Homo sapiens: one gene and its partners. The protein of the gene in region 3 purifies or fractionates together with the protein of the main gene of each other region. This does not show direct contact. Each region holds a gene or a part of one and is shown on either strand. Other genes may lie near its edges. The genes, in order: RAPH1, MAGEB10, ARHGAP12, DMBT1, ASAP2, NHSL3 and WASF1.

Region 1 (4,384 bases), on a different chromosome or scaffold from region 3:
AGTGAGCCAAGATGGCACCACTGCACTCCAGCCTGGGTGACAGAACGAGAATCTGTCTCAAAAAAAACAAAACAAAACAAAACAAAACAAAAAAAAGGTAATAATATGGCAGAGTAAGGGGAGCTCCATTTTTAAATAGCATAATCAAAGAACGCCTCAATAAGAAAGTGACATTTGAGCAAATTCCAGAAGGTAGCTAGGAGAATGTTACACAGAAGACTGGGGAAAGGCGTCTGGGCAGGGTTGAATAAGTGCAAAGGCTAAGAGGCAGGCTCTGGCTACTGGCTGAGAACAAGTATGGGACAGTATGGCTAGTGGGGTAAGGGACAGAAGGAAGAAAAATAGGTGGTAATGGGAAAGCAGATCAGGCAAGGCTTTATAGGCATTATAGGGGTTTGGGCTATACCATGAGATGCAAAGCCTTTAGGTTTGAAAAGAGATGATCTGACTTATCTTTCAAAAGGATCACTCTGGCTGCAGTGTGGATGATAGACTGTTAAGGGAGAAAGGTGAATGCAGAAAGACCAGAAGGAAGCCTATTCAAAAATCTAAATCAAGATGATATTGGCTTGGTGGCAGTGAAGGCGGTGAGAAGTGATCACATTCTAGACATATTCTGAAGATAAGGCCAACAGAATTTGCTGCTGGATTGAAAGGGAGGTAGAAAGAAAATAAGTAGATAAAGACTCCAAGGAGTTTGCTTGATGAACTAGACGGATGGAATATCCATTATTTGAGATAGAGAAGACAGTGGGAGAAATAAGTTTGAAGAGAAAGAGCAGGACTTTAGGTTTAGACCAGTTAAATTTGAGCAATCTATTTATGATGGTTAATTTTAGGTATCAACTTCATTGGATTAAGGAATACCTAGAGAACTGGTAAAGCATCTGGGTATGTCTGTGAGAGTGTTTCCAGAGGAGATGGTGTGTGAACCAGGACTGAGTGGGGAAGATCCATCCTCATTGTGGGTAGGCACTATCCAATTGACTGAGGGCCCCAGATAGAACAAAAAAGGCAGAGAAAAGGTGATTTCCTCCCTATCCTTCCTAGAGGTGGGACACTCTGCTCCTACTCTTGGATATCAGAACTCCAGGCTCTCCAGTCTTTGTACTGCAGGCCTTATACCAGCAGCCTCCCTTGGGTACCCAGGCCTTCAGCCTAGGACTGATAATTATACCATGGGCTTTCCTGGTTCCGAGGCTTTTTGACTTGGACTAAGTCACACTACCACCATCCTAGGGTCTCCAGCTTGCAGACAGCCTGTCACATGACTTCTCAGCCTTCATAATGGTGTGGGCTAATTTCCATAATAAATCCCCACTCATATCCTATTGGTTCTATCTCTCTGGAGAAATATAATACACAATTAGACATCCAAATAGAGATATTGATTAGAGATGGAATATATGCACCTGGAGTTCAGGAGAGAGGGACTGGCCAAAGATACCTATATTTCCTTAAATCTAAGAAGATTTGATGCTGGTACTTTCTTGATCTTTATTAGAAACTTTCAACAGAAGGACTTCATACAACGTACTATAACTGCCACCTTGCTGATCGTGACTAACAGGTGCCACACGATTTAAAATGTGGTTTCTCAACCTTGGCTCTATTTTGGGCCAGATAATTATCCTTCATGTGGGCTGTCCTGTGCACTGTAGGATGTTTAGCAGCACCTCTGGCCTCTACCCACTAGATGCCAGTAGTAGCACACGCCCTTGATGGACAACCAAAAATGTTGCATATACCCAGCAGGACAAAGTAGCCCAAGTTGTGAAGCATTGTTTTACAGGGATTAAAATGGGGGTGGGAAGATGTGGAAAAAAAGCATATGGCTGAGTGGTAACCAATTTAGCAAATCCAAGAGAAGCTGAATGCTGGGCCAGCACTGGAGAAAAGCAGAGGAGCACTCAATTTATATCGTGTAACCTCAGAAGTCCTCAGAAGCAAGAGTAGACAGGTGATGGTGCGACTAAAAGCAGGAAGAATGGTTGAAAACACATTTAAGAAAGCAGCTAATTCTCAGATTCCCTCTTTTACTCACTCACCCACCAGCAGTGGTCTCAGGTACAGATTAACATTCGCTGACAAGACCCAACAGACCATAGCTTGAAGCCAGATTCACTCAGTTCTGAATAAATAAAAAGAGACATGCCATCTTCTGAGGGAGTCCATACAGCTCACCACAGGCCCTTTTTGGGCCCATAAATAGCTCATTGTAAGGGAAAGAGACCACATGGTAAGTGCAGAAAACACCCTGGCTTAGGGAAACTTCATGCTCCATGGGAACCAGCAGTACCTTTTAACAGCCAATGAGGTTAAGTTCCAGGGCCCCTTAAAGAACACGTTCATGCTCATTTATAAGAGTTACACTGCTGGCCAGGTGCAGTGGCTCCCACAGTGTAATCCCAGCACTTTGGGAGGCCGAGGCAGGTGGATCACTTGAGGTCAGGAGTTCGAGACCAGCCTGGCCAACATGGCGAAACCCTGTCTCCACTAAAAAAAAGAAATACAAAAATTAGCCAGGCGTGGTGGCATGTGCTTGTAATCCCTGCTACTCGGGAGGCTGAGGCATGAGAACCATGTGAACCTGGGAGGCGGAGGTTGCAGTGAGCTGAGATTGCGCCACTGCATTACAGCCTGGACAACAGAGTGAGACTCTGTCTCAAAAAAAAAAAAAAAAAAAAGAGTTACACTGCACACCACGAAGTCAAGGTCTATGTCTTTTCATAGGCTAATTTATTCATTCATGGACAGTCTTCCTGGTCCATATACACTCACCAACAGGGGTCAGTTTCACAATAAACAATATTACCTGGAGATATTCTATATTTAATTCTTAATCCAGTATGTGTCCAGGAAAAGAATGCCAGGAGAAGGAAAACCCAAGGTCATTTTCCACGAAGAAAAGGACTCAGGCCTACTGTTAACCCTCTCTACCTAGAGCAGTGGTGATTCTCAATTGGGGGTGGATTTTGTCCTACAAGCAACATGTAACAATGTCTACGGACGTTTTTAGTTGTCACAACTGAAGAAGGTAAATGTGTACTACTGACATCTAGTGTGTACAGGCCAGGGATGCTGCTAAACATCCTACAGTGCATGGGACAGCCACTCACAAAACTATCTAGCCCAAATGTCAATAGTGCTGATAGCTGAGAAACCCTGACCTAGAAGGATTTGATGAAAGTTCATAGACTGGAACAATGGGGACCATCCTCATGTTCCAACCCTTCTTTCCCAAATGGGCTACTAAAACACTGGCAGCCAGCATAGAAGACTGGAAGAATCTTCTCCAGAGAAGCTCACCAGCCTAGGAAAAAAAACCTAAGGATAATCCTGAAGACTACAAAAAAAAAAAAAAGAAAGAAAAGAAATAAATAGAATTTTAAGAAGATGCAATTAATGGAACGCTAATTTGGCTTGAACCAGAGAGATTTAATCAACTGGGAGAAAGTCTGAAGTTGAAACAGTGATCACCATATAGAAAATTAAATATTTTTAAACATATATTCATTCCAGTAAAAGTAAAATGATATTCCAGAAAGGGGATGTAGTCACAAGAGTATATGGAGGTTAGCAGTAAATTTCAAGTATATAGTCATTTTAATATAAACACTGAATATGAGCTCAATCAAAATATATTTGGAGAATGGAAAAACAGGAAGGGAGAAGTGAGAAGAAGCTGTATATAGACAGCTATACCCTCCATCTTCTGGAGTAGAGTGAGAAGTCAATAGGTAATACATACCACTAAAAAGAAAATCAAGAAATGGCAATGTGTATGTAGACTTAATGATAAAGAGGTAAAGTCCCTAAGAATCAGCTAAATGAGCAAAAATTGCTTACCTCTGGAAGCAGAATATGATGTGTATGTGAGTAGAGGATAGTTTTCCGTAACATATCTCATAGAACTATTTAACGCCATGCATGAAAAACTAAAATATTTTTAAAACTGTATTTGCACTTAAAGACAATTTGATACATGAGTTCAGGATATATTAAGCTTGCCTCAGTTTACTTTATTTGAATCAGAACAGACTAGACCTAGGAAAAAAGCAAATGGAAGCAAGTTCCGGGTTTGTTAAACCACCTTTCTATACTCCTAGGTGAGGCAAAAGAACAGGCTAGCTAGATAAGGCTTTTTAACTCCTTTCCCTGCTATAGTCCTGGTTTACTCACCAAACCTTACATTAAACTCTTATATTAAACATTATACCATTGAGCACTGGTATCTTTGCAGTATTCACAGTGATACCCATGGATACCACTAGATACCATTTGAAGTGCGCTTGCTGGGAGAGAGGAACTTTTCACGTTTTACTTCAATTTGCCCCTATACTGTATGAACTTTTATAATGAGCACATTTTACAGACAGAAAGA
Region 2 (3,500 bases), on a different chromosome or scaffold from region 3:
CAAGTAAAACTCAGTTATTTACTTTGCAAATTTGAGGATTTCTTATTTATTGCGGGTGTGGGGTAGTCTTCCCCAGTTGGATTCAAGACTCCTATAATTTATGTCAAAGACTAATTCCTTCCATCCCTTCAACTATCCTTCCATCCAAACCACCCCTATTTTCATTTCTTTCACTCGCATCAAAAATCTAGCCCTCACTTGAGTTTGCCAAATGATACTAAAGACAACCTAATAAAAATGCCCTTTTAGGAACAACACACACCGGGTCCTGTTGGGGTGTGAGGGGCAGGGGGAGGGAGCCTAGATGATGGGTCAATAGGTGCAGCAAACCACCATGGCCCATGCATACCTATATAACAAACCTGCACATTCTGCACATGTATCCAGGAACTTAAAGTACAAGTTTTTTTAAAAGCCCTTTTAATTAAGTGGGTTTAGTGGGCTCTTGTTTCTCCCAGGCCAGAGCAAATAATGCCAGCACAATGGCTTTTGAGCACATTCATGTCAGGTCACCCTTGATTCTCAGAAGGTCCCTGGAGCTGATGTGCATAAAACATAGTTTGTGGACTGTGCCCAACTGCACTGGAAAAATGACACTGGAAAAGGATGCAAGACACCTTCCATTCCCATCTTACAATTATTTCTGGTTTATCTATTACCTCAAAATAACTGCTAAAAGCACTTCTTCATTCTAGGCATTAGTCTTTTTGAGGATCTGGCCCCTGCTCTGTACTCCCACAGCCTCAACCAACCCACTATCCAGACTAACAAAATTGACTGACACTGAAGGGTTTGCAGTTTCCTAAGGCCCCAAACCCACTTGCCTCAGGACATTTTCACTTGACTGCTCTGATCTGGATCTTCCCACCTTCTCTTACTCATCCTTTACTTCTTAGGGTATATCTCACCATCTTCCTTACATGACAGCTGCTCTTAGACTCTACAATTCAGTGCGTGCCCTTGGGTCTTGTTTATCCTGACATTCCCAGTACCAGCATGGCGCCTTCCCTCCAAAGAACAGATGCCCAAGTAATGTTTGAGAAATAAGTGAGCCAGTGTGCAAGAAGTCAGTTTTATTATGATGTTCCTTCTCCTACATTGTTGAATAAACTAATCATATCTAAGTATCTATCTCTTAATTTTACAGAACAGACTAAACATAACGGAATGAAAGCATTTATCATCTTTTACATTTTACCTCTATTTCTTCATCCCAACTATTTTACTGCTTTTTTAAAAAAATATTTCCAAGGAAATGGCTAATCCACTACTATGTTATCTCATTGGAGATCACTAAATAAGATGGAAATTTTCCCATTTTTTTCTATAAAATAGTAAAACTCTACTCTAAAACCTCACAAACATCAATAAATGTATGACTTACTATCACTTATAATCTTGGATTCTTAAGCTACTTTAACCTTCTATTAAAAGGAACAACGTTTAAATATCCAAGTTACCCAGAACATGTTATGTACTATGTTATAACGAGACACAGCCAACCCTCCACTAGTGAAACACTGACTGTCCTCTTCAAAAACACAGTAAAGCATTTTCCTCAGCCTTCACTTGGAGCAGGCAAGGCTGCTGGACGTGGCCTTGGAACGTGCACTGGCCATGGTGGCAGTACGGGCCCTGGCTGCAATTCTGGCTTGGGATCTCTCTTCCACATCTTTCAAAGCCTCTTCATAATGGGATGGGAAGGCACTGGGGACTGTACCATGGATCTTGGCCAAAAACTCTAGGACTTTCATCTTGCTGGTTTCAGCATAGGCTCGTGGACGCCACAGGAATTCATAGCTTGGAGGACTGCTGTTGGGCACTTCCCAATACTCCAGGTACTGCTCTTGCACTAAATCTTTGGTGAGGAGGTTCCTGGGCTCTCCATAGATGACGTGCTCCTGTCCCTCGTATACCCCCATCATATTTAGCACCTTCCAGACTTCCTCCTCAGGGGCACAATTCCCCTGGCTGAAGATCGCACTCAGGATGGTCATCAGCAGGCCATTCTTGGGCAAACTTCTGTTAGGATTCACTCTTGTGTCATGGCCTAATTCTAGTTTGTTGACAAGGACATAGATGCTCTTGTTGGGATCCACTTCTCTCACGTCAAGGCCAAAGACCAACTCCAGGTGATCAGAAGCTCTCCTCAGGATCTCAGGGAAGAGGCTCTTTTACGTCTGGATTACATTTTTCAGCATATCTGCCTTTGTAATGGGCTCTTGCATTTGACATTTGTACAGCAGGTAATGCACCAACATAGCAATCTTCTTATCTATAGGGCCTCTGGGCCACTGCCCAGTGGTAGCCTGGGCCTGTGAGGCATTTGACCTTTCCTCAACTTGGCTGTCGATGCCTTCATTAGATGCTGTGCATGAAACAGCTGCAGCAGTGGTGATGGCTAGAGCTATCCCAGGCTCTTGCTCATTGCTGGGTGTTTCGACAGCAGATGACCTCTCAGGACTATCTTTGAAATGAGGAGATGAAGTGAGGGACTCTCCTTCCTCTGCTACAGTGACTTGAGCACCTTCCACGTCCTTGGGCTCTTCTCGAGCCTGGCGGCGTTTCTCACGGGCACGGGGCTTACTTTTCTGACCCCGAGGCATTATGACTCTGCTCAGAGGTAAGTAGTAGTGTGAGACAGATGGCAGGTGATGAAGTGACCTCAAGGAAAGAAGGTGTGATCCTCCAGCAGGAAGATATCACCTTGACTTTATGGAAGTTGCTTCTGTAGGTTTCTTTGAGAACACTGTTCAAGGATCCTATGAGGCTACTCTTCTCTGAAGGGCCTTTCCCCTGAGGAATCAGTGGAAGTAACTAGACTGTACCTTTGCTGAAGCCTGCCAGTATTACCTGCATCTTACTGGGACTGATACAGTGACTGGCAGGTCCAGACTCTATGGAGCTTCCTTTTTTTCTGGGGTAGACGATGTTTCTTTCAATTCACATTCAGGGCCATCACCTTGACTTCTGGCAGGACCTGTTATCTCACTGCTGAACTGTTTTGATGCTGACTCCCTCATTCCAAAGCGCTCATATCCTTGACTCCCCAGACAAGAAATTGAGGGGGAATCTCATGTGACCACATTTGCAGGGGGACATTGTGGAATGGCAGCAATGCAGAGATCGGTGAGACCCTCTTTATCTTGAGGTAATTAGTTTTCAGTCCTCAGTCTTTACTTTTGCTTCTTGGAGGGTCTGATTGCCCTCCTTTTGCTTACCTGAAACCTATCCCCTCCAAGCAAGGCCTTCACATCCCTGACATTCCTGATAAAGATATTAGGGAGGCCTCAGATGTATCTTCCCCAGGGACCCCTATCAGGAAAGACAGCACTCTTAGGGCTCTATGAATCCTCTTTTACTTCTGGAAATTCAGGTTCCTCCTAATGACTCCTCACCTTGACAGCCTCATACCTTCCCCTCTGAGGACTTGAGGCCTATACCAATCAGAGAAAGGCCCTCTTCCACTTGATATCCCAGAGTATGCAGTTGGAGGGAGG
Region 3 (4,384 bases):
TTATGTGTTTTAATTGTACAAAATCTCTTTCATGATATACAGAGATAAGTTAATGTGATTACAATATACTAATGTATATAAAACTAGTATAAATATTATAGCTATGTTTAAATTAATCACAATAGAAATTAGTTTGTCCTATTTTACAGAAAATGACATAAAAATTTTTATCTCGTGAGACATTTGTGGTTGACTTAACCATTTAAAATGTCATCTGATTTTTAGGACAGAAGAAACTTAGTAAGTAAACACAATCTCCTCGGATCTTATACATTGTCAAATTATTTCTTAAAAACAAGCTCAATTTCACAATCACTACCTTCTTCATTTTAAGCAAATGCTTAAATGAAATGGCATCAAAGAATAGCATATACTTAATTAACTGTGAGTACCAAACATTCAGCAGATGCCTGGAGAGATCTTAATTTGAAACAGGTGTAAACATGTAAGTATTTGTAAACAAAATTATTTTCTTAACATCTTAGGACTATAAGGAACTTCTGTTTGCATCACTCAAAATCATAAAAATTCTAGGAATTTTGATGGCAAAACAAGAAGCTGGTTTGCTTAATGTTAAAAAAAAAAATCAAAATCCTTCTCTTACCATGTTCTTCAACATGTTCAATACATAACTTCACAAACTTTGGTACTGTGCCATTCTCTCTCTGACACAGATTAGCGAGATTGGATCCAAATACCTGATCTGAAAAAGATTTATTTTTAAAAAGTCAATCACCTTGCTGAAATTCAGTTCATGAAATGGCTAACCATTCAGAGTGCAACAGAAACATCCAGCGTAACCAAATATTGTTTAACATGGCCCTATGCCTTATGCAATATGCATCTTGCCTACTTCTTTTCACTTCAAACAATTCGTTTCCAAACTCATACAAACCCTTACTCACTCTTGCCTGAAAATTCTTTGTACTTTCTACTGCTTTTGCAGAAAGCAATTTTCTACCCAATTTGGCTCCTTCTTATCACTCCTGGTCTCAGCTAAAATGTCACCTACTTTAATAACCCCTCTGACCATCCTTACCTAAGAGAACCCAGTTCTAGACACATTCTATTTTATTACTGTGTTAGATTCACAGCATTTGTTACTATTTCACATTATCTTGTCTACTTCCTACTTGAGTATAAGTTTCATGAGGGAGAGGACCAAGGACCATGTAGTTCCTGAACACCAACAGGTATTCATAGCACCTAGGCTTGTGCCTGGCACTTAGTAAATACTTGATTATTTTAAAAACTATTAAAATAAGCATATGTCCGTCCATCACGTACCAACATTTGATTTCACAAAATACATTTCAAATACTCTTCTATTGATCTTTCAACCCAACAGTTTTGAAATTCCATATTAGTGGTAAATGTTCAGGAAAACAAACAATTTGAAGTGATGAATAAGGACATAAAGTGACAACAGTTTATATTTCTCAGGGAAAAGGCCTGGTGAACAAATTAGCAACAGTTTCTATTCACTTATTTGCCAGGCTTTTTTTTTTTTTTTTTAAGTTTTTAAAGACTCTGAACTCATCATACAAATTCAAATGCTTTATTGGAGAGTACCTAATTTGAATTAATCAGCTAGTCTCTTCCTAGAAGTCTTAAATACCTTTTTTATTTTATTTTATTTTTTTTAAGACAGTCTTTCTCTGTCACCCAGGCTGGAGGACAGTGGTGCAATCATAGCTGCACTGCAGCCTCTAATTCCTGTGTTCAATCGATCCTCCCACTCAGCCTCCTAAGTAGCTAGGACTACAGGTGTGTGCCACCACACCCAACTAATTCTTTGTAGAGAGAGGGTCTCTCTATGTTACCCAATCTGGTCTTGAGTTTCTGGACTCAAGCAATCCTCCTGCCTCCCAAAGTGGGGGGTTTACAGATGTGAGCCACTGCACCTGGCCTTAAATACCTTCTTAATAAAACTGGCTTGCGTGTTTTAATGCAGATGCTTCACAAATAGATGGTCTTTGTTAGAAATTTCATAATAATCAGAGACAGAGATATACATTATAGACTATATTATCTTTACTTTTATTTTTATTTACAAATAAATGCCATTGTTTTAAGTCAGGTATTAGAAAATTTTACCTTTGGAATTAAACACGCTCGTAAGAACTACATACACAAGTAATGTGATTTTTTTAAAGAATATTTTCCTATAAAAAAAAGATTGTTAGTCCATTATAGTGCTTATAAATGAAATAACAGGCAAATAAATTAGTTAGAAAAAAACACCTTATGCTAATTTTTCAGTTACCTTAAATGACAGCCAAGGGTAAAAATTATTTGTTCATTTTTCTTTCTATTGTTAGTGATATTCAAAATTTCTTATTTATTGTGATCTTTGCATCTCAAAACTAAACTTTTCATTGTCACAATTTCTAAAAGTCTGCCACCCATCACATCCATGTAGTTCCTCTGAAACAGGCTTTCTAAAAGTTTAGTGTGTTATTTATGTCTGTCCACTACTTTAGTTAAAATAAACTTTCAAAAAAACTATTTTAATTACTTAATGTCTTTTAATCACTGTACTTGAATACATGAATAAAGAATAATATTCTTACTGTTTGAAAATGTTTGTTTTTAATTTGAAACATTTTATTTATGACGTAGGCCAACATTCATTATTATCAACAATACTTCTCCTACCAACCTTTAATATAACCTTTTTCACGAACAGCTTGCAAAGTGGGGCGTCGTGTAAGAAACTTCTTTAAGTTTTTCTTGGTTTTTTTCTGTTCTGAAGAATCTATGCTAGATACTTTAAAGGCTTAAGACAAAAAGACAGGTAATGAGCATTTGTAAAAATAAAGTTTTTTTGATACAAGTTTTTCCAGCTAGCATGCAAAACACATTAACCTCATATGTCAAGATCATAGTACAATTCAGTTATTTTAACTTTAATGTGGTTTAAGGACAAGATGTGAAGAATTACATTAACACAGACCCCATTTCAAAGTTATAAACCAAACAAAACATTTCATTTTTATCACTAAAAACAGATGACAACTGTACCTTCTATGGTATATCTGCCAAGACATCCCTAATTTACTCTAACATATTCTTTATTTCATAAATGATTAACTACTTATCTTTATTGATTCTCCATCAGTTTTAGAAGGTAAAATGACCACCAAAAAGTAAAAATACATAAAATACACAACAAAACAATCCCTATCTTCATTGAATAAGAAAACTGGATATACACACAAATATATAGAGATATAAATATAGACATATAACCATCATAACTATTATACTTGTATTTTAAGCTAACTTTCATCATAATTATTTGTACTCTAAGCTACAAATGGGACTACATGGAAAATGTCCTCCATTGCCTTTAGTCTTGATTTTTCTGTTATAGTAACAAAAATTCAAAAGGTATATTTCTTGAAAATAATTCTATTTGGGGGAAGTTGAGAGCATGAAGAATCTATAATATAGAATAAAAAATAATCACTTTTTATGTTAAATTGCTACCTGTTGACAATGTCAGTAATAGGCCTAAAGTTCATTAGAAATACAGAAAAGTAGTACTGATTTTCTAATCATTCAGTTAATATGAAGGCCAAAAAGTTCTCAGTTAAACGTGGATTTGTTAAAATAGACTGAACAAAGTACCAAGTCACAAAGCTAACGGCCTATTTAAGCAATGTAATTCATAAGGGGCCAACATTAGAAAATGCTTTTCTTAAAGCTGCTGGCTTTTGCTATGCTCCTTTCTGTAGTAAGATCTGGAGATAGAAACGCTTGCATCTGTTTACATGCACAGACACATCCTAGTCCAGAGATGGATGCCTGGTGTCCAGTAGGAAATTATGGTACATATTCCATGACTTTTGACTTCTTAAAAAGTATAAGATTCTATGTAGAATCTTAAACAGTAAGTATATATTTTTAAATCAATGAAGTTCAGCTTCCTAGAGGCCTCAACAGAAATGCACTATACTTCTTCTCTGAAAGTAGCACAATACCTTAAAATTAATGTGATGCCACAGGATGCATACTATGAGGCTGAAAAACGACAATAATGAGTTAACAAGAAGAAAGAGCGCTGACACACTGAGACTGCACTTGGTTAACTGCACAGCCCTTTTGTAACATTGGACATTCCATTCAGCTTTTATATATGTATTTAAAACCTTCAAAAAGCTAAGAGAACAAGCACAAATCCTTAGCAAAATAGGGAAAGGACAACTTACAACGAAGCTTTTTGGGATCCTTTTGTTCCTTTTCTTTATCATGCTTTTCTATTCCTGGTGAATCCGGTATCTCCTCTTCAATTCCTTCATCAGTTTCTACTGCCTATTGGTTAGATATTTCCCAAACACATATTACACTTCTAGTATTACTATAGTTGGAATGGCATAAT
Region 4 (4,384 bases), about 91 Mb from region 3:
CCAGCCCATCCTACCCTGCATACTACCCCAACAATGCTAAGTGTGTTTGGGAAATAGAAGTGAATTCTGGTTATCGCATAAACCTGGGCTTCAGTAATCTGAAGTAAGTAATGCCTGGTCATCTGGTGAGGGGTGAGTTCCTCTGCAGCACACCCACTGGTTTAGACTGTGTCCTGGGCTGGGATGCTTTTCACTCTCATGTGCCATGGACAAGCTTTTGGTGGCTTTGATTCCTACCATAAAGCATCAGGGAACACTGATGTCCTTTGACTTAATTGAGGAAGAGCTAGAAGAAAAACCTGTATTCAATGGCATCCCTCGTAAAGTGCAAACTATTTATAAAATGGAGGGGCAATAGGAATTTCAATGTTGACTTGAATACATTTTCTCCATACAGATTGGAGGCACACCATAACTGCAGTTTTGATTATGTTGAAATCTTTGATGGATCATTGAATAGCAGTCTCCTGCTGGGGAAAATCTGTAATGATACCAGGCAAATATTTACATCTTCTTACAACCGAATGACCATTCACTTTCGAAGTGACATCAGTTTCCAAAACACTGGCTTTTTGGCTTGGTATAACTCCTTCCCAAGCGGTAAGTGCACACTAGACCATGCCTATGAGGCTTGGTGGATTTACCCAGCTGCCTCTTTGGGGGCACCATGGTTCCCCAAGGAAATCAAAGAAGGGCCTCAGCGATGCACGGCCCATTCTCTTTCTCTTGGCACTGACTGTGTGGGCAGGCCCTTGGGAAGGCAGCAAAGGGTGCAGACTGGGGGTTCCACCTGGCCTTGGGTCTGCCACCAACTCTCCAGGGGACCTGGTGACTCTCCTTCAGAGCCACCCCTCTCCGTCTGGAGGTGAGGGGATCTGAGCTTGGCGATGTCTAGAGCCCCTTTCAGCTCTGCATGGAGCGGTCCAGTACCTCCACCCCAGCTTTTCCACATTTCTATTTGGCGACTTTAGAGGTGGGAAAAGGCCTGTGGGATGCTTGGCCTTTGAGGTTTGTTGTGGGACATTTGTTGTGGGACATGGCCATGATCTCTCAGTTAATGTGTCTTTCAGATGCCACCTTGAGGTTGGTCAATTTAAATTCATCCTATGGTCTATGTGCCGGGCGTGTAGAAATTTACCATGGTGGCACCTGGGGGACAGTTTGTGATGACTCCTGGACCATTCAGGAAGCTGAGGTGGTCTGCAGACAGCTAGGGTGTGGACGTGCAGTTTCAGCCCTTGGAAATGCATATTTTGGCTCTGGCTCTGGCCCCATCACCCTGGACGATGTAGAGTGCTCAGGGACGGAATCCACTCTCTGGCAGTGCCGGAACCGAGGCTGGTTCTCCCACAACTGTAATCATCGTGAAGATGCTGGTGTCATCTGCTCAGGTATGGCCCAATGCCATGGAAGGCCCATTTCACCTGTAACTTGCTATAAAGCAAGAGCTTAAGGCCAGTGGCTGATGGTGTCTGTGGCCCAGGCAGGAGCTGGTCATTGTGTCCTCGTGGCCTGCGCACTCCAGAAGAGCATGCAGGGGGCTGCTTTATCTTTGGCCAGTTTCTGGACCCAGGGCCATTATGCTGAACACTCATCTGACTAAAGGACCTCCAGCAATGATTTTACTTCTTTATGCTTCAGTTTCCTTGACTGTTGAGTCGGGGTGGCTATGATAGTACTTGCTACTGGTGACAATTGGGATGGTTTTAGAACAATCATGGTCAAGGAGAGAGTGATGGGTGTTATGACCTCAGCTGTAATCCTGATGACCACAAGTATGACGGGACTTAGGGAGCATCTGGGGAAGCTGGGAAGGCTTCTCAATAGCAATTGCTGGGTGGACCTGGGGACCCTCGCCGAGGGGGGTCAGGTTATGGGCCATGTAAGTGTATCTCTGTCTCATTCCGGCCCCTCCTCCAAGCCACATGTCTGTGACCTATGCTTTTTTTCTATTCCTTTTTCAGGAAACCATCTATCGACACCTGGTAAGTCCCTCCGATTTCCATTCCACTTCCCTGGTCTCCAGGTCTCTCCATTACTGCTGCCTAGACTGTGCAGGGCATGTTGCTCACTCTCCAAGGAGTTCATCTGTGGTACCATCCTCTACAGCCCCTGTCCCCTCCCCTGCCGGCCACCAGGATAGTGTGCCCCTCTCTGTGCTTCAGTGGCCTGACCCACCTAAGATTAGGATCTCCAGTCAGTCCCGAGGTGAGGCCCGCCACCTGTCAGATTTGACTGTCCTCACAGACACCAGACCCTGACCAGTGTTGGCCAAATGGGGCCCACTGCATCGCAGAGCTCCTCCCTGCCTGCCCCTGAGCTGCTCTGAGTGTTCCCAGCATGGCCCTGGCACCTCTCCAACACCCCCCACTGCCCCGCCCCCTGCTTGCTTTGTCATCCCCTCCTGGCCTCCCATAGCAGCAGCTTCAGGCCTGTGCCCTCCCATCCATTCTCCACTGTGCAGCCCCTTCAAGAGATTCCTCAGGGTCTTCTGGTGATGACCCCGCTCCTCAGCACAGCATGACTGCCAGGGCTCCCCATGATCTGCTCCCTATGCTTGGTGCCCTCTCCCCATCCTCTGCCTGCTCCATCTACACGGAGGTTCCCAAATCTATTCCACCCAGGTGCAGTTGCACCTGCTGTTCCTCTGCCTGGGACACCCCGTTTCTACCTCTTTGCCTGCCCCCTAATTACTGCCCTTTTTTCCCCACTCCATCTGGGGCAGGGGCCAGACTTCCAGGCTCCTCTCCTTCCCCAGGCTTTGGTCAATCTCATCCTTTTCCCAGTGTGCTGGGATTCGCTCTCCTCCAGACCTCCCCAAAGGCAAGTGAGCTCCCCAAGGGCAAGGCCTGTGTCCAGCTCCTCCCTGTGGACTCAGGCTTGGCACAGCATCTGCACAGCTCATGAGCAGTCGACAGCTGTGTCAGGGATGCCAGAAAACTGATCCTGATCTTTTCTTTTTGTCAACAGCTCCTTTTCTCAACATCACCCGTCCAAACAGTAAGTTCTGAGCTCCCTGACAAGTCTGTGGCAGAGTGGCCTGGAAATTCCCCTTCCCATTTCCTCAGTGACAATGGGGCTGGGGAGGAGATGGCTTCCCCCAAAGTGGTCTCCCTGCAAGAGTGCCCTGCCAGCCCTCAGTGGACGGTCCAGATCTAGGCCACCTCTTGCTCTTACTTGGTTTCTGTCTTGGGAATTATTTTATAAAATTTTAAAGTAATTTAAATTTAAAGTAGTCCGCAGGTAGACTGTGCAGTGTGCTCTGGGGGTCACCGACATTCCCACTTTTTGTCCTGACAGCAGATTATTCCTGCGGAGGCTTCCTATCCCAACCATCAGGGGACTTTTCCAGCCCATTCTATCCCGGGAACTATCCAAACAATGCCAAGTGTGTGTGGGACATTGAGGTGCAAAACAACTACCGTGTGACTGTGATCTTCAGAGATGTCCAGTAAGTGTGCGCCCAGAAGAATGCCTTGGGGCCCCACAGACCTTTCAAGAGGGAATAAATGGTGCTTAAGTGTGCGCCCAGAAGAATGCCTTGGGGCCCCACAGACCTTTCAAGAGGGAATAAATGGTGCTTAGAAAGCCAGGAGAGAAGTTTGCTGAGAGACATTTTTGACCTAGCCCAGAGGCATCCCGTGGAGAGTTGGGGAGGGGGCACGAGAGCCTTGGAGTGGACAAAAGCTCTGGTTTCAAGTCCTAGGTCTTTCACCAATTTGCTGTGTGACCACAGGAAGTCACTCAACTTTCCTGAGCCTCAGTCAAAAGAGGGGAATAAAATACCTGCTTTCCTCACCTCACTGTTTACTGGGAAGGTCACGAGAAACAGAGAGGAGAGAGAGGGAGAGAGATGTGAAAATATTTACAAAATGTTGTCCAGTGGAAAAGATGGTTGTTAAGTAGTAATGATAGACTTAGGGGCAATAATAGCACTAATAATCCTATTAACAACCACACTGGCCAGGTATGCTGCCTCAGGGTTGTAATCCCAACACTTTGGGAGGCCGAGGCAGGAGGATCACCTGAATGCAGGAGTTCAAGACCAGCCTGAGCAATATAGGGAGACCCCCCATCTCTACAAAAAAGTACAAAAATTAGCTGGGTGTGGTGGCCTGCACCTGTAGTCCCAGCTACTAAGGAGGCTGAGGTGGGAGAATCGCTAGAGCCCTGGGAGTTGAAGGTTGTGGTGAACTATGATAGCGCCAGTGCACTCCAGCTTGTGGAACAAAACGAGACCCTGTCTCAGGAAAACAAAACAAAACAAAAAGAACAATTGTATCTGTTTTGTGGAACCCTTTTTCTCCACCCATTCCTTTCTTCATGTGAGTTCCCCAGGGGTCGGGCAGAGATGGAGGAATTGCTGCTCCAGAGGGTAGGGTAT
Region 5 (4,384 bases), on a different chromosome or scaffold from region 3:
CAACGTCACCTAAAGTGGCAAAGGTATAAGTTGGCCCCATTTCAATGAGTTAAGTACTTGTGGAAGGCTTCACTCTATCCACTTATGTTCCCTCTTGGGTAGATACATAAATTATATCCAAATATGATCTCAAGAGTGTAAATGATGTAGGCAAATAAAAGGCTAAAAACAGCCAAAATATGAATGGTGGGCTTTTTGTGGAGTGGGTGGGGGGTGCTGTGGTTATGGGCAACTTCTGTTTTCTTCTTTATGCCTCTATTTTCCAGTTTTGGAAATGAGCAGGTATTTTCCACATGGCTAAGCCTGTGGTCAGGTTGGCGCCCCTTCCGGATGGTGGGTTGTGGGCAACTGTGGGAGCTGGCTGGTTCCCGAGTAGCTGGGATTACAGGTGCCTGCCACCACACCTAGCTAATTTTTTGTATTTTTAGTAGAGAACCATGTTGGCCAGGCTGGTCTCGAACTCCTGACCTCAAGTGTTCCGCCTGCCTCGGCCTCCCAAAGTGCTGGGATTATGGGCGTGAGCCACCGCGCCCAGGCCACAGACACTTTCAATCCATTAAGGGCAAACGAGGCCACAGGAAAGACCGGTGAACCCAGCTCTGCCAAATGAAGGCAGTGCTGCCTGGCCCTGAGAGCTCACAGCGCCTCTGGAGGCTGAAGACATGCAGTTTAAACACTAGTGGGAGTTCTGGGAGGGACAGTGACTAAAGACAGTGTCCAAACTCCTCGCACTCGACAAAGAAGTTCCCCTAAATCCTGTGAGTTCCCAGCTGAACTGTCTGCTCTGAGCTCAGTTGCGGAGCTGTGCCACTTGCGTCTACTGTGTGGTGGGCTCAGCCTGGGGCTTTCTGTCCACGCCCCATTCAAGCCGGTTCATCCACCGCCCTCACTGTCTGCAGCTGCCGCTTAGTGGGTGCTCACAAGATCACCTGCACCAGACTGTGTGTGTGTGACCTCCCTGTCACAGATGATCCCACTAATGCTTAAAGATAAAAGCAACCTGCCCCAAGCCACCAGCCCCTGAGTGGCCAAGTCTGAATTCTTAGGTGGCCGGCACTCATCTTGCTCCCACACCCTGCTGGACGCCTGGGCGGCCACAGCTTGTTTCAGGACCAGACTCAGGCCTGGGGCTCTGCGCTCTAGGTCAGCTCTCTCCAGACACCCGATTCCACTAATCCAGCAATGGGGGGTGATGACCTAGAAACTCAAGACCTCAAAATGAAGGAGTGTCATTTCAGGCCCTCATGAGTGCTGTGGAAACTGCACCCTAACAGGGGAGGAAGCCACCCTGGGGAATAATCAGGCCTGCTCAGAAGGGGGTGTCCATGGAGGAAGCAGCTCCTGAGGATGCTAAGGGGCGGAGGCACCAGGAACTACATCTGGACTGCTCAGGCTGAGAAAACCTCACCTGCAAGCCCGTCTCTCCAGCCAGGTGGGCAGGGACGTGGCTCAGCCCCCAGGAACCTCCCAGGCCCACCCTTGACTCACCCACCACTCCTGGTCCTCCTCCCCGTCCACGATGATCACATCCCCCTCGGAGAAGGTGAGCTCATCGGGGTTGTCAGCCACACAGTTATAGAGCGCTTTCACCCGCTTAGGCTTCAACTTGGTCTGGGTCAGGAGAGGGAACAACGGTTAGTGTGGCTGCAGGCCTCAGCTCTCAGGGCAGAGAGCTCAAGCACCCTGCCTTCCCCGGTCTCAGGAGTCCCGTACCTAGGCCTGAGAAGCCTGCAGATGCCAAGGTGGGGCAGGTCAGTGCAGCTCAGGAGCCAGGGAGAGAAAAGGGAAGAGCTCCCCACCAAGCAGAGAGAAGGGGCCAAGGGCTGGGAAACGAAGCGGCCGGGGCAGGGTACTCTGAGTGGGCCCATTGTGGAGCTGCGGCAGGAGGGCCAAACCCACCAGCTGCCCAGATCCAAGCAGTCAGGTACCAAGAAGAGCCCCGCCCTGCCCCAGCCAGGGGAAGAGGGGAAGACTTGCTTCCCCTGAGCCCTTGTGAAACCACCTGCACCCCCCTGGCTAGAGCAGAGAGGCAGGAAAGGGGGCTCGTCACTTACTGCCTGCGACTTCCTAGGCATGGGTGCAGGGGGCTGCAGGACCATAGCATTGGACAGAGGACCCAGAGCTTCCGTTGCAGAGAGATCCACTGTAGGGCAAAAATGAAGCAGCTTAAGACATCCCATCAATCACAGCCATGAGATGTAAACAATGTACAAGCCACAGGGTGTGTCTGAAAGCAGGTTTCCCCAGGTGTTCCGATCTGTTGAGGGGAAAGGGAACCTTCTGACTTGGATGCAGACCTTGGAGAGCTTGTGTGGCAGCGAGTGTCCCCCAGTGAGCCTGCCATGTCAGCAGGAGGGGACAGGTGAGGGGCCCCAGGACTGAGCTGCTCAGGAGCAGGGGTCTCAGAGGCCGAGGGAGGAGGGAGGATGGCAGGAGGGAGGAGGGAGGAGGAAGGCAGGGAGGAGGGTGAGAGGAGGGGAGGGGAAGGGAGGGGTGGAGGAAGGCAGGTGGCGGGGGAGGAAGGCATGAGATGGGGGAGGGAGGGGGAGAGGAGGAGAAGGGAGCAGAGGAAGGCAGGAGTGGGGGAGGAAGGAAGGAAGGAGGGAAGGAAGGAGAGGAAGAGGGCAGGAGGGGAAGGGGGCAGGAGGGGAGGGGGCAGGAGGGGAGGGGGCAGGAGGGGAGGGGGCAGGAGGGCTGTGGAATGGCAGACAGCTGGGCCCTCCCTCAGTCCTGACCACCTGGCAGGAAACATCCCCCACATTGCCCCCATGGACCAAGCAGAAACAAACTCAGTCCCAAATTAAATAATTACCAGGTCCTCTCGGTTGGCCTTTGTTGGTCAGTGGGGTGGACTTGTCAGCCCTACAAAGACAGGGAAAAAGTAGATTTACTGCTACCGGAGGGCACCTGCCCCTTTCTCATCCCCTTTTATCAGAGAACCTTCTGAGTTCAAGCTCAGAGTGTGTGAGGTGGTTTCCTCCACTGTCACTTAGCTGTCTCTTTTTTATGGGAAAAGGAAGAATGAGAGGCCCTGAGGAAAGTGCTAAATTCAACGTTTCTGATCCTAAAACCAGGGCTTTTCCAGAGCACTCTGTCCACGTGAGCCTGCCACCGATGGCCAGGGTCTGGAGTGATGCTGGGCACTGGCCACTGGCCCCGCCCCGAGTCTGCTCAGCCCCTTCCCTGCCTTGGTCCCATCACATGAAAGGGCAGGGCTGAACCTTAACCTCAGGCCCAGATGGCTTTGCCAGGACGGGTCCGAGCACTCTGGGTCAGCGCTGTCCATGCCTCTGCCGTCCCTGCTTCTGGGAACCAATGTGGCTGACCACGGGCTCAAGCCCCATCCATGAACCTCTGGGCCAGCACACCCCAAAGCCACAAGGTAGAAACACATGAGTGAGGAAGTAGTTCTCAGGGCTGGCAGAGAGGGGTCCCTCATCTCGAACCTGCCACCTGGCAGCCCTGGATAAATGGGTTCTGGAGAGTCAGCATTTTCATCTGCAAAAGGTGTGACACAAGATCCGTCAACTCCAGAGCTAAGGACCAGTGCCAGTGGCTTCAGCTCCCCGGTGGATCTCCTGGACCTAGCATAAAGCCAGGCACAGGACGGGGGCTGGAGAAGCAGAAGAGGAAGACCAGGGAGGAAGGGAAGGGGAAGGCAAGGATGGGATTCTTTCCACTGTACGCTCCCGTCTGTCGACACTCCCTTCGCTGCTCGGAATGAACCCTGTCTGGCCTCAATGCTTGCAGTCCCAGAATGAAGGGAGAGAAAACATCACATGGGTTTTGCTCATACGCTGAAGGAACTGAAAAGGAACTTTGTTTTATTCCATAAAACAAAGACCCCTCCCATTTGACCAGTCTAGCCATTTGTTTTCCATCTGTGTCTCTGGGTGTAAATGTCTCTGCAGACATCACTACACTGACCTGGCTGACCCCCTGGCCGGCAGTCATCCCTAACTACAGAACACTCGCAGGGAAGGCCTGATCCTCTGAGACAGCAGTGAGCAGACTTTTTCTTTAAAGAGGCAGATAGTAAACTTTTTAGGCTTTGTGAATTTTTTTTTTTTTTTTTTGAGATGGAGTCTTGCACTGTCACCCGGGTTAGAGTGCAGTGGCACAATCTCGGCTCACTGCAACCTCTGCCACCCGGGTTCAAGCAATTCTCCTGCCTCAGCCTCCCGAGTAGCTGGAATTACAGGTGTGCACCACCACGCACAGCAAATTTTTTGTATTTTCAGTAGAGACGGGGTTTCACCATGTGGGCCAGGCTGGTCTCAAACTCCTGACCTCAGGTGATCTGCCCACCTCGGCCTCCCAAAGTGCTAGGATTACGGGTGTGAGCCACTGTGCCTGGCCTTTGTGTTTGTTTTTTGAGTCAGGG
Region 6 (4,384 bases), on a different chromosome or scaffold from region 3:
CGGATTTAAACTCAAATCACCTGCCTCAAAAATCGGGACTGTTTTCATGACTCTCCCAAGGACATAGAGCAGCAGGTAAGGCTTGAAGATCTTCTTGTTCAACTCACTTTACAGATGGGAAATGGCCCAGAGAGAGAAGTGAGGGAACTTGATAGAGTGGGGAGAGTATCAGAATCAGGCCAATGAGAGTTTAAATCCTGGCCCAGCTACTAGCAAGCCCCATGATGTAGGATGAGCAACTTCTCAGTGGGCTCCCTGATTCCACCACTGTCTTGTGGGGAAGAAAGGGGGAATCCTCTGGCTGGACATTGCCTTGATGGGCTGTGACCTTTCTGTCTCACCAAGATTCTCACAAGAGAGCATATGAAAATTATATTAAAGGCTGGGCGTGGTGGCTCATGCCTGTAATCCTAGTATTTTGGGAGACCGAGGCGGGCAGATTGCCTGAGCTCAGGAGTTCGAGACCAGCCTGGGCAACACGGTGAAACCCCGTCTCTACTAAAATACAAAAAATTTGCCAGACAAGGTGGCGTGCACCTGTAGTCCCAGCTACCCGGAAGGCTGAGGCAAGAGAATTGCTTGAACTCGGGAGGCGGAGGTTGCAGTTAGCCAAGATTGCACCGCTGCACTCCAGCCTGGGCAACAGAGCGAGACTCAGAAAAAAAAAAAAGAAAAAAAAAAGAAAATTATATTAAAGAGAAGTAACCATAGAAATGCAAGGGGTTGCTATGCCTGTGTTTATAAGTTTAGTCACCTGAGCTCTAACGACCCAGTCTGGAAGGAATGGGCTCTGGGCCTAAGAACAACTTTGCTTGACTGGGCGTGGTGGCTCACACCTGTAATCCCAGCACTTTGGGAGTTTGAGGTGGGTGGGTCATGAGGTCGCGAGTTTAAGACCAGCCTGACCAACATGGTGAAACCCTGTCTCTACTAAAAATACAAAAATTAGCTGGGCGTGGTGGCGCGTGCCTGTAATCCCAGCTACTCAGGAGGCTGAGGCAGGAGAATCGCTTGAACCCGGGAGGTGGAGGTTGCAGTGAGGCGAGATTGCACCACTGTACTCCAGCCTGGGCGACAGAGCGAGACTAGGTCTCAAAAAAAAAAAAAAAAAAAAATGGACAACTCTGCTTCCCTGGTCTGCCCCTCTCAAGCTACAAGATGCTGGCAGGTTATTCACCCCTCCAAGCCTCAGTATCCTTATCTGTAAAATAGGGATAATAAATCCTAGCTTTATAGGGGCCTTTCCAGGATCAAATGAGCTAACAGACATGCAAGTGCGTTGTGAACTGTGGAGCATGGTGCAGCTGGCAGCAGGTTTCTGCTGTTGTTATGCTGCTGAGGACTTGAGCATTAGTTAAGTTCACCCTGATCCATGTTTGGAAAACAGCCCATGATGATGATGATTATTGAGGGGGATTCACAGAGGATAGAGTCTCACCTTTGTCCCACAGGAGGACTCAGACATAAGAAAAAGTTAAAAAAACAGGCCAGGCACGGTGGCTCACGCCTGTAATCCCAGCACTTTGGGAGGCTGAGGCGGGCGGATCACAAGGTCAGGAGATTGAGACCATCCTGGCTAACATGGTGAAACCCTGTCTCTACTAAAAAATACAAAAAATTAGCCAGGTGTGGTGTCGGGCGCCTGTAGTCCCAGCTACTTGGGAGGCTGAGGCAGGAGAATGGAGTGAACCCGGGAGGCGGAGCTTGCAATGAGCCGAGATCGCGTCACTGCACTCTAGCCTGGGCGACAGAGCGAGACTCCAGCTCAAAAAAAAAAAAAAAAACAAAAAAGAACAAGTTAAAAAAAACAAAAACAAACAGGAATCCATATCTTCCAGAAATATCACCTGGACTCTAGACAAGTGTGTGGGTAGGAAGTGTTTCTGGGACAGATGCCAGGATTGGAGCCCAGCAGATAATCAGGGGAGGCTTTCTGGAGGAGGCGAGCGCCTATGGAAGGAGGGCAGGGTCCTGGCTAATCTGAATGGGAAGAGAAGTAACAGGAAGGCTGCTATGTGCTATATATACCCTGGCCAGGCATTTTCATCAAAGTCTTCCTATGTCCTTACAGCAACCTGGGAGGTGGACAGTTACCACCATTTGTAGGTGAGAAAAAAGGGGTGAGAGTAAGTAGCCCGAGGTCACTCAGCTTCATTTATTTGAAGAGGACATATTCTTTACTCTGGAGTGTAAGGCACTGTTCAAGGTGATGTGAATGCCAGAGGACCAGACAGGCAAGGTCCCCATCTATGTGGAAGTGAGGTTCACAGCATCACAATGACGGAGCCACTCAGTCTGCCTCCAGAGGCCACACTCTACAAAGAAAATTATATGATGATGGCTGTGTTTCTGACTCTGGAGGCAGGTAACCTCTCTAGAGTTTTAGACAAAACCAGTTTTGGGGAAAGGGGTATGTAGTCCTCCTGAGGGTTTCTCTTGTGCAGTGGGCAGCGGCTGAGGGGTGGGAGTAGGCATGGCTCTGATACTGAGAATTTGAGAGCTACCCTGCCAGGCCTAGCTGACTTAGCCCCATGTTAACTCCAGTCAGTTCACTGTGGCCTCTCCAAGTTCCCTCTGGCCACTCAGGGAGGACTGTCCTTTCATGGTGTGGAGTTGTGGAGAGAACCCTGAGTTTGAGTTCTGCTCTGTTGTATGACCTTGGGTAAGTCCTGCCCCTCTTTGGACCAGACATGCCCTGTCTTGACAAAGATGGTTTTTTTTTTGTTTTGTTTTGTTTTTTGAGACAGAGTCTCACTCTGTCGCCCAGGCTGGCGTGCAGTGGCGAGATCTCAGGTCACTGCAACCTCTGCCTCCCAGGTTCAAGCGATTCTTCTGCTTCAGCCTGGGACTACAGGTGAGTGCCACCGTGCCTGGCTAATTTTTGTATTTTTAGTAGAGATGGGGTTTCACCATATTGGCCAGGCTGGTCTCGAACTCCTGACCTCATGATCCGCCCGCCTTGGCATCCCAAAGTGCTGGGATTACAGGCGTGAGCTACCGCGACTGGCCGACAAAGATGGGGTTTAATGGCCTCTGAGACTCTTGCTAGTTCTAGGATTCTGTGAGTTTGAGAATGGGCTGAGGGAGCAAGCCTGTAGGGGCTGGGGGCTAGGCATGGAGATGGGAGCTGTGTCCAGGAAAGGAGAGCTGACCTCCAGCCAGCCAGATAAGACACTGAGACCCAGTGGCCTGGATGTCATAGGAAGGGGAGTAAGGTGGCTGGGCGTGGTGGCTCACACCTGTAATCCCAGCACTTTGGGAGGCTGAGACAGGTGGATCACTTGAGGTCAGGAGTTCAAAACCAGCCTGGCCAACATGGTGAAACCCCGTCTCTACTAAAAATACAAAAATCAAAAATTATGGCCGGACACAGTGGCTCACGCCTGTAATCCCAGTGCTTTCGGGGGCCAAGGCGGGAGGGGATCACCTGAGGTCAGGAGTTTGAGACTAGCCTGGCCAACATGGCGAAACCCCATCTCTACTAAAAATGCAAAAATTAGCTGGGCATGGTGGCATGCATCTGTAATCCCAGGCTACTCGGGAGGCTGAGGCAGGAGAATAGCTTGAACCCAGGAGGCAGAGGTTGCAGTGAGCTGTGATCACGCCATTGCACTTCAGCCTGGGCAACAAGAACAAAAAGCTCCGTCTCAAAACAAAAAACAAAAATTAGCCAGGCGTAGTGGCAGGCGCCTGTAGTCCCAGGTACTTGGGAGGCTGAGGCAGGAGAATCACTTGAACCCAGGAGGCGGAGGCTGCAGTGAACTGAGACCACGCCACTGTACTCCAGCCTGGGCGACGGGAGTTCAACTGGGCAACAGTTTCATTCAAAACTCAAAAAAAAAGGAAGGTGGGTAAGGAGAGTCCATTATGAACAATGTCATTTCTCTCTGCTGAGGAAGGGGCCTAGATAGTTCCAAAGCAGTCAGAGTCAAGTCTCTGGGGTCGTGGGCGCCTTGCCCTTCTGAGGTCAGGATGGTGTCTGTTTGCCCGTCAGTCAACACTCCCATGTGTTTTCCCCTTCTGTGTCAGTTCCTGTGCTGCTTCTCCTGCCTGGAATGTGCTCCCCTTCACTTTGCTATCCAGTGAACTCCTATTCAGCCCTCAGGGCCTGGTGTCAGTGTCATCTCTGTGATACTCCCAGGGGAAATTATTGTCCCCAGACCCTAGAGCAAGGTGCTTAAGAGAGTTGGGGTTGGGCAGTATATGCTTTTCCAGCCACTTTCTTCTTGGGTAAAGGGCACCTCAGTGTCCTTACCTGGGGCCTGGACCAATGTAATAGGGGCGGAGTTCCCTCTGCTATGGGATACCTCCAATAGGGGAGTGGTTTCCCAGAGGAGTTTGGGGTTTCTCAATAAGAATGTGACATTTTGGCTTCCCAGAAATG
Region 7 (4,384 bases), on a different chromosome or scaffold from region 3:
AAACTTATTCTTTGGGCTTCTCTATTTCTAGTAACAGCACCAAATCACTTAGGATTTGAGATCATCTTTAAATTAAAGCAAAGTACTGGATTCTCCATTAACCAGTTCAGTCAACTTTCAAATGTATGCAAATTGCTGGTAAAACAGTTGCATCTCATCAAAAGGACACAATACAGCCATTTTCATTCAACTCCTTTGATGGTACACAAATCTGATACACTGCACATGACTTGAACTCTGAAATCAGTCCCCAACACTCACCTCCAGTATTGCGACCTAACAAGTAAATCAAAATAATCCCATTTTTTCATTACATCTAGAGGAAGCTTAAGTCAGGGGTAAGCCCAAGGCAGTTAAATTTTAGTGACTATTGTAAAAAAATTCTGTAGTGGTCTATACTTAAAACTTAGTTTCCACCACAAATAATGAGAATCATACTTCTTCACAGGGTTGTTGTGAGGATTAAATCAAATACGTAAGATATTTAGTACAATGCCTAGCATATACAGGTGCTCAAAATGTTTCCAAAATTAAGAAACCAAACAGCAAATCCATGAAGCTCAGAGATCATCAACCACGATAAATACCAGAAAATCTACACCTAGGCATGTGATGTTCAAACTGCAGAAAACCAAAGACAAAGAAAAATTTTGAAAGACAGAGAGAAACCACTTTACCTATAGAGGGACAAGGATAAAAATTAGATTGGACTTCTCCTCGGTAATCATACAAAAAGAGAGGCAAACTAGGACAACCACTTACAAAACATTTTAAAGAGAAAGAAGTATAATTGATATGCTAAGAGAGGAGAGAAAAGGAAACCATACAAAGTGCTCAATTAAAGTCAGAGCAGAAAAAGAGAGGACATTTTTTGGGGGTGGAGGGGGTGAAACAGAGGTTCCTTCCATCACTCAGACCGGAGTATAGTGGTGCAATCTTGGCTCACTGCAAACTCCGCCTCCCAGGCTCAAGTGATCCTACTACCTCAGCCTCCCAAGTAGCTGGGACTACAGGTGCATGTGACCACACCTGGCTAATTTCTGTATTTTTTTGTAGAGACAAGGTTTCACTGTGTTGCCCAGGCTGGTGTCAAACTTCTGGGCTCAAGTGATTGGCCTGACTCAGCCTCCTAAAGTGTTGGGATTACAGGTGTGAGCCACCAGCCCAGCCAACTTTTTCTTTTTAATGAAACAAAGAACAAGTGCAATGAATAAAAAAAGTTGCAAATACAGTAGATTTTAATACAATTATGTCAATAATCACTTTAAATGTGAATGGTCTAAATATGCCAATTAAAAGATAAGAGACAGAGTAGATTAAAAAAAAAAGACCTAACTATATATTGTATACAAGAAACCCACTTTAAATGTAGAAATAGATTAAAAGTAAAGAAATGGAGAAAGATATACCATGCTAACACGAGTCAAAACAAATCTGAAGTAGCTGTATCAATTTGAGACAAAGTAGGTTTCTGAGCGAGGGAAATTAACAGGGATAAAGATAGGCATTGCATTACGATAAAGGGGCAAATTCTCCAAGACCTAATGATTCTTAATGTATATGCACCTAACAGAGCATCAAAATGTGAAGCAAAAACTGATAAAACTACAAGGGGAAACATGAACTCATGATCACAGCTAGAGATATCAACATCCTTCTATCGGTAATTAACTGACAGGCAAAAAATCAGTAACAATACAGTTGAACTAAATACCATCAATCAACTGGATCTAACTGATATTTATACAGTACTTCAACCAACAACAGCAGAATACATGTTATTCTCAAGCTCACATAAGTCATTCACTGAGACAGACTATATTCTGGGCCATAAAACACACCTGAAAAAATTTAAAAGAACAGAACTAATACAGTATATGCTCTCAGACCACAATGCAATTAAACCAGAAAGCAATCTCAGAAAGATAGATGGGAAAATCTCAAAACATTTGGAGATTAAACATCACACTTCTAAATAACACATGGTTCAAAGTCTCAAGAGAAATTTTTTAATACTTTGTATTAAGTGAAAATGAAAATTCAATTTATCAAAATGTGTGGGATACATCAAAAGCAGTGCTTGGAGGGAAATTTATGGCACCAAGTATATATACAGACGGTCCGCAGTTTATAACGGGGTTGTATCCCAATAAACCTATTTTAAGTTGAAAATATCATGAAGTCTGTATTAGAAAAGTAGAAGGATCTATAAAACCATAAAAACCCTAGAAGAAAACCTAGGCAATACCATTCAGGACACGGGCATGGGCAAGGACTTCATGACTAATACACCAAAAGCAATGGCAACAAAAGCCAAAATAAGACAAATGGGATCTAATTAAACTAAAGAGCTTCTGCACTGCAAAAGAAACTACCATCAGAGCGAACAGGCAACCTACAGAATGGGAGAAAATTTTTGCAATCTACCCTTCTGACAAAGGGCTAATATTCAGAATCTACAAAGAACTCAAACAAATTTACAAGAAAAAAACAAACAACTCCATCAAAAAGTGGCCAAAGGATATGAACAGACACTTCTCAAAAGAAGACGTCTATGCAGCCAACAGACACATGAAAAAATGCTCATCACCACTGGTCACTAAAGAAATGCAAATCAAAACCACAATGAGATATCATCTCACGCCAGTTAGAATGACAATCATTAAAAAGTCAGGAAACAACAGATGCTGGAGAGAATGTGGAGAAATAGGAACGCTTTTACACTGTTGGTGGGAGTGTAAATTAGTTCAACCATTGTGGAAGACAGTGTGGCGATTCCTCAAGGATCTAGAACTAGAATTACCATTTGACTCAGCAATCCCATTACTGGGTATATACCCAAAGGATTACAAATCATGCTACTATAAAGACAAATGCACACGTATGTTTATTGCGACACCATTCACAATAGCAAAGACTTGGAACCAACCCAAATGTCCATCAATGACAGACTGGATTAAGCAAATGTGGCACATATACACCATGGAATAATTAAGGCAGAAATCTATGAAATTGAAAACAGGAAATCAAGAGAAAAAAACAATGAAACTAAATGAAGATTCCTTGAAAATAACAAAATTGATAAATTTGTAGTTGTGTATTATGATGTACCACACAGGGCTTTTATTTTGGTTTAAAAAAAAATCAGTGCCACTATTCAAAATAGCAAAGATATGGAATCAACCTAAGTGTCCATCAATGGATAATTAAAGAAAATTTAAATGCAAACAATGAAATACTACTCAGCCATTAAAAAGAATGAAATAATCTCTTTTGCAGCAACATGGATGGAACCAGAGGCCATTATCCTAAGTGAACTAACTCAGAAACAGAAAGTCAAATACCATATTTTCTCATTTATAAGTGGGAGCTAAATAATTTGTATACATGGACATAAAGAGTGGAATAATAGATAATGGAGACTCTGAAGAGTGGAAGGATAGATGGTGGGTGAGGGGTGAGAAATTACTTAATGGGTACAATGTACACTATACTAAAAAGCCAGGCTTTGCCACTATGCAATATATCCATGTAACTAAACTGTACGTGTACCCTCTAAATCTATAAAAATAATTTTAAGAAGTGAGTGCTAGTCTTCATCCTCGACTAAAATATAAAATGCTTCACTGTTCCTCCCTTTTCGTTTAACCCTTTCACAATTCTCTGGCATAACCTGTAGCACATGCATGTTATAAAAATTTAGCAAATTTAACAAATTTAGCAAGATGTCCCTATTAAAACAACTAGAAAACAAACTTACTTTTGTAGCATAAGGTGAAAACATAACACACTTGACTTTTTTGGTAAAGGAATCAAACAAGTTATTCCATGCCCTGACACATAAGCTTTTCTTCTTTTCAAATAAGTTAGTCAATGTAACTTTATTGGAGTAGACCTGGCTAGGTTAGGAATAAAGAATGGCTACATGCTGGACTAACTACTATCAAGCACACCAAATTAAAAAAACAAAAAAACAAAAAAACTTTGCTGTCATCATCATCCAACAGATGTCATCACACCCAAAACCCACCTACTTAGAATTTCTTTAGGACCTTTAGTTTAAGAAATGGTACCTTTGCAGCATAAGGGAGTAGGAAAAAAATGGGACTTTGAAATCACACATATCTGTGCTCAAATTCCACCTCCATTTCTATTAGCCATGTGACCTTGAGCAAATTACTTGATCTATGAGAGGACTCAGTTTGCTGGTTGACAAGTACCACAAATACAATTCTAACAGTTTACGCAAAAAGGAGGACTTATGACAAAGGTAACTAGGATGTCTCTGGAACCCAATCTCAGGACCATGGACAAAGGAACTCAAATACAGTCAGGACTCTGTGCATCTGCTTCTTTGCACTCTTTGTTCTAGAAGCCCTGGCTT

What was found.
Region 1: the proteins of ARHGAP12 (region 3) and RAPH1 purify together in Homo sapiens (affinity purification with mass spectrometry; one large-scale study listed by BioGRID and IntAct). This does not show direct contact.
Region 2: the proteins of ARHGAP12 (region 3) and MAGEB10 purify together in Homo sapiens (affinity purification with mass spectrometry; one large-scale study listed by BioGRID and IntAct). This does not show direct contact.
Region 4: the proteins of ARHGAP12 (region 3) and DMBT1 purify together in Homo sapiens (affinity purification with mass spectrometry; one large-scale study listed by BioGRID and IntAct). This does not show direct contact.
Region 5: the proteins of ARHGAP12 (region 3) and ASAP2 purify together in Homo sapiens (affinity purification with mass spectrometry; 2 studies listed by BioGRID and IntAct, with this or other methods). This does not show direct contact.
Region 6: the proteins of ARHGAP12 (region 3) and NHSL3 purify together in Homo sapiens (affinity purification with mass spectrometry; one large-scale study listed by BioGRID and IntAct). This does not show direct contact.
Region 7: the proteins of ARHGAP12 (region 3) and WASF1 purify together in Homo sapiens (affinity purification with mass spectrometry; one large-scale study listed by BioGRID and IntAct). This does not show direct contact.

The regions. Positions count from the first base shown.
Region 1 is NC_000002.12:203,482,744-203,487,127, forward strand, and holds part of RAPH1 (ras-associated and pleckstrin homology domains-containing protein 1), read right to left. Parts: intron 1-4,384. UniProt on the Homo sapiens protein: Mediator of localized membrane signals. Implicated in the regulation of lamellipodial dynamics. Negatively regulates cell adhesion.
Region 2 is NC_000023.11:27,810,990-27,814,489, reverse strand, and holds part of MAGEB10 (melanoma-associated antigen B10), read right to left. Parts: intron 1-3,500.
Region 3 is NC_000010.11:31,810,045-31,814,428, forward strand, and holds part of ARHGAP12 (rho GTPase-activating protein 12), read right to left. Parts: intron 4,318-4,384; coding exon 4,215-4,317; intron 2,780-4,214; coding exon 2,663-2,779; intron 704-2,662; coding exon 605-703; intron 1-604. UniProt on the Homo sapiens protein: GTPase activator for the Rho-type GTPases by converting them to an inactive GDP-bound state.
Region 4 is NC_000010.11:122,629,891-122,634,274, forward strand, and holds part of DMBT1 (scavenger receptor cysteine-rich domain-containing protein DMBT1 isoform e precursor), read left to right. Parts: coding exon 1-103; intron 104-397; coding exon 398-600; intron 601-1,070; coding exon 1,071-1,391; intron 1,392-1,964; coding exon 1,965-1,985; intron 1,986-2,970; coding exon 2,971-3,000; intron 3,001-3,300; coding exon 3,301-3,451; intron 3,452-4,384.
Region 5 is NC_000002.12:9,398,501-9,402,884, reverse strand, and holds part of ASAP2 (arf-GAP with SH3 domain, ANK repeat and PH domain-containing protein 2), read right to left. Parts: intron 2,863-4,384; coding exon 2,813-2,862; intron 2,144-2,812; coding exon 2,055-2,143; intron 1,612-2,054; coding exon 1,489-1,611; intron 1-1,488. UniProt on the Homo sapiens protein: Activates the small GTPases ARF1, ARF5 and ARF6. Regulates the formation of post-Golgi vesicles and modulates constitutive secretion. Modulates phagocytosis mediated by Fc gamma receptor and ARF6. Modulates PXN recruitment to focal contacts and cell migration.
Region 6 is NC_000001.11:32,744,464-32,748,847, forward strand, and holds part of NHSL3 (NHS-like protein 3), read left to right. Parts: intron 1-4,384. UniProt on the Homo sapiens protein: Able to directly activate the TNF-NFkappaB signaling pathway.
Region 7 is NC_000006.12:110,169,353-110,173,736, forward strand, and holds part of WASF1 (actin-binding protein WASF1), read right to left. Parts: intron 1-4,384.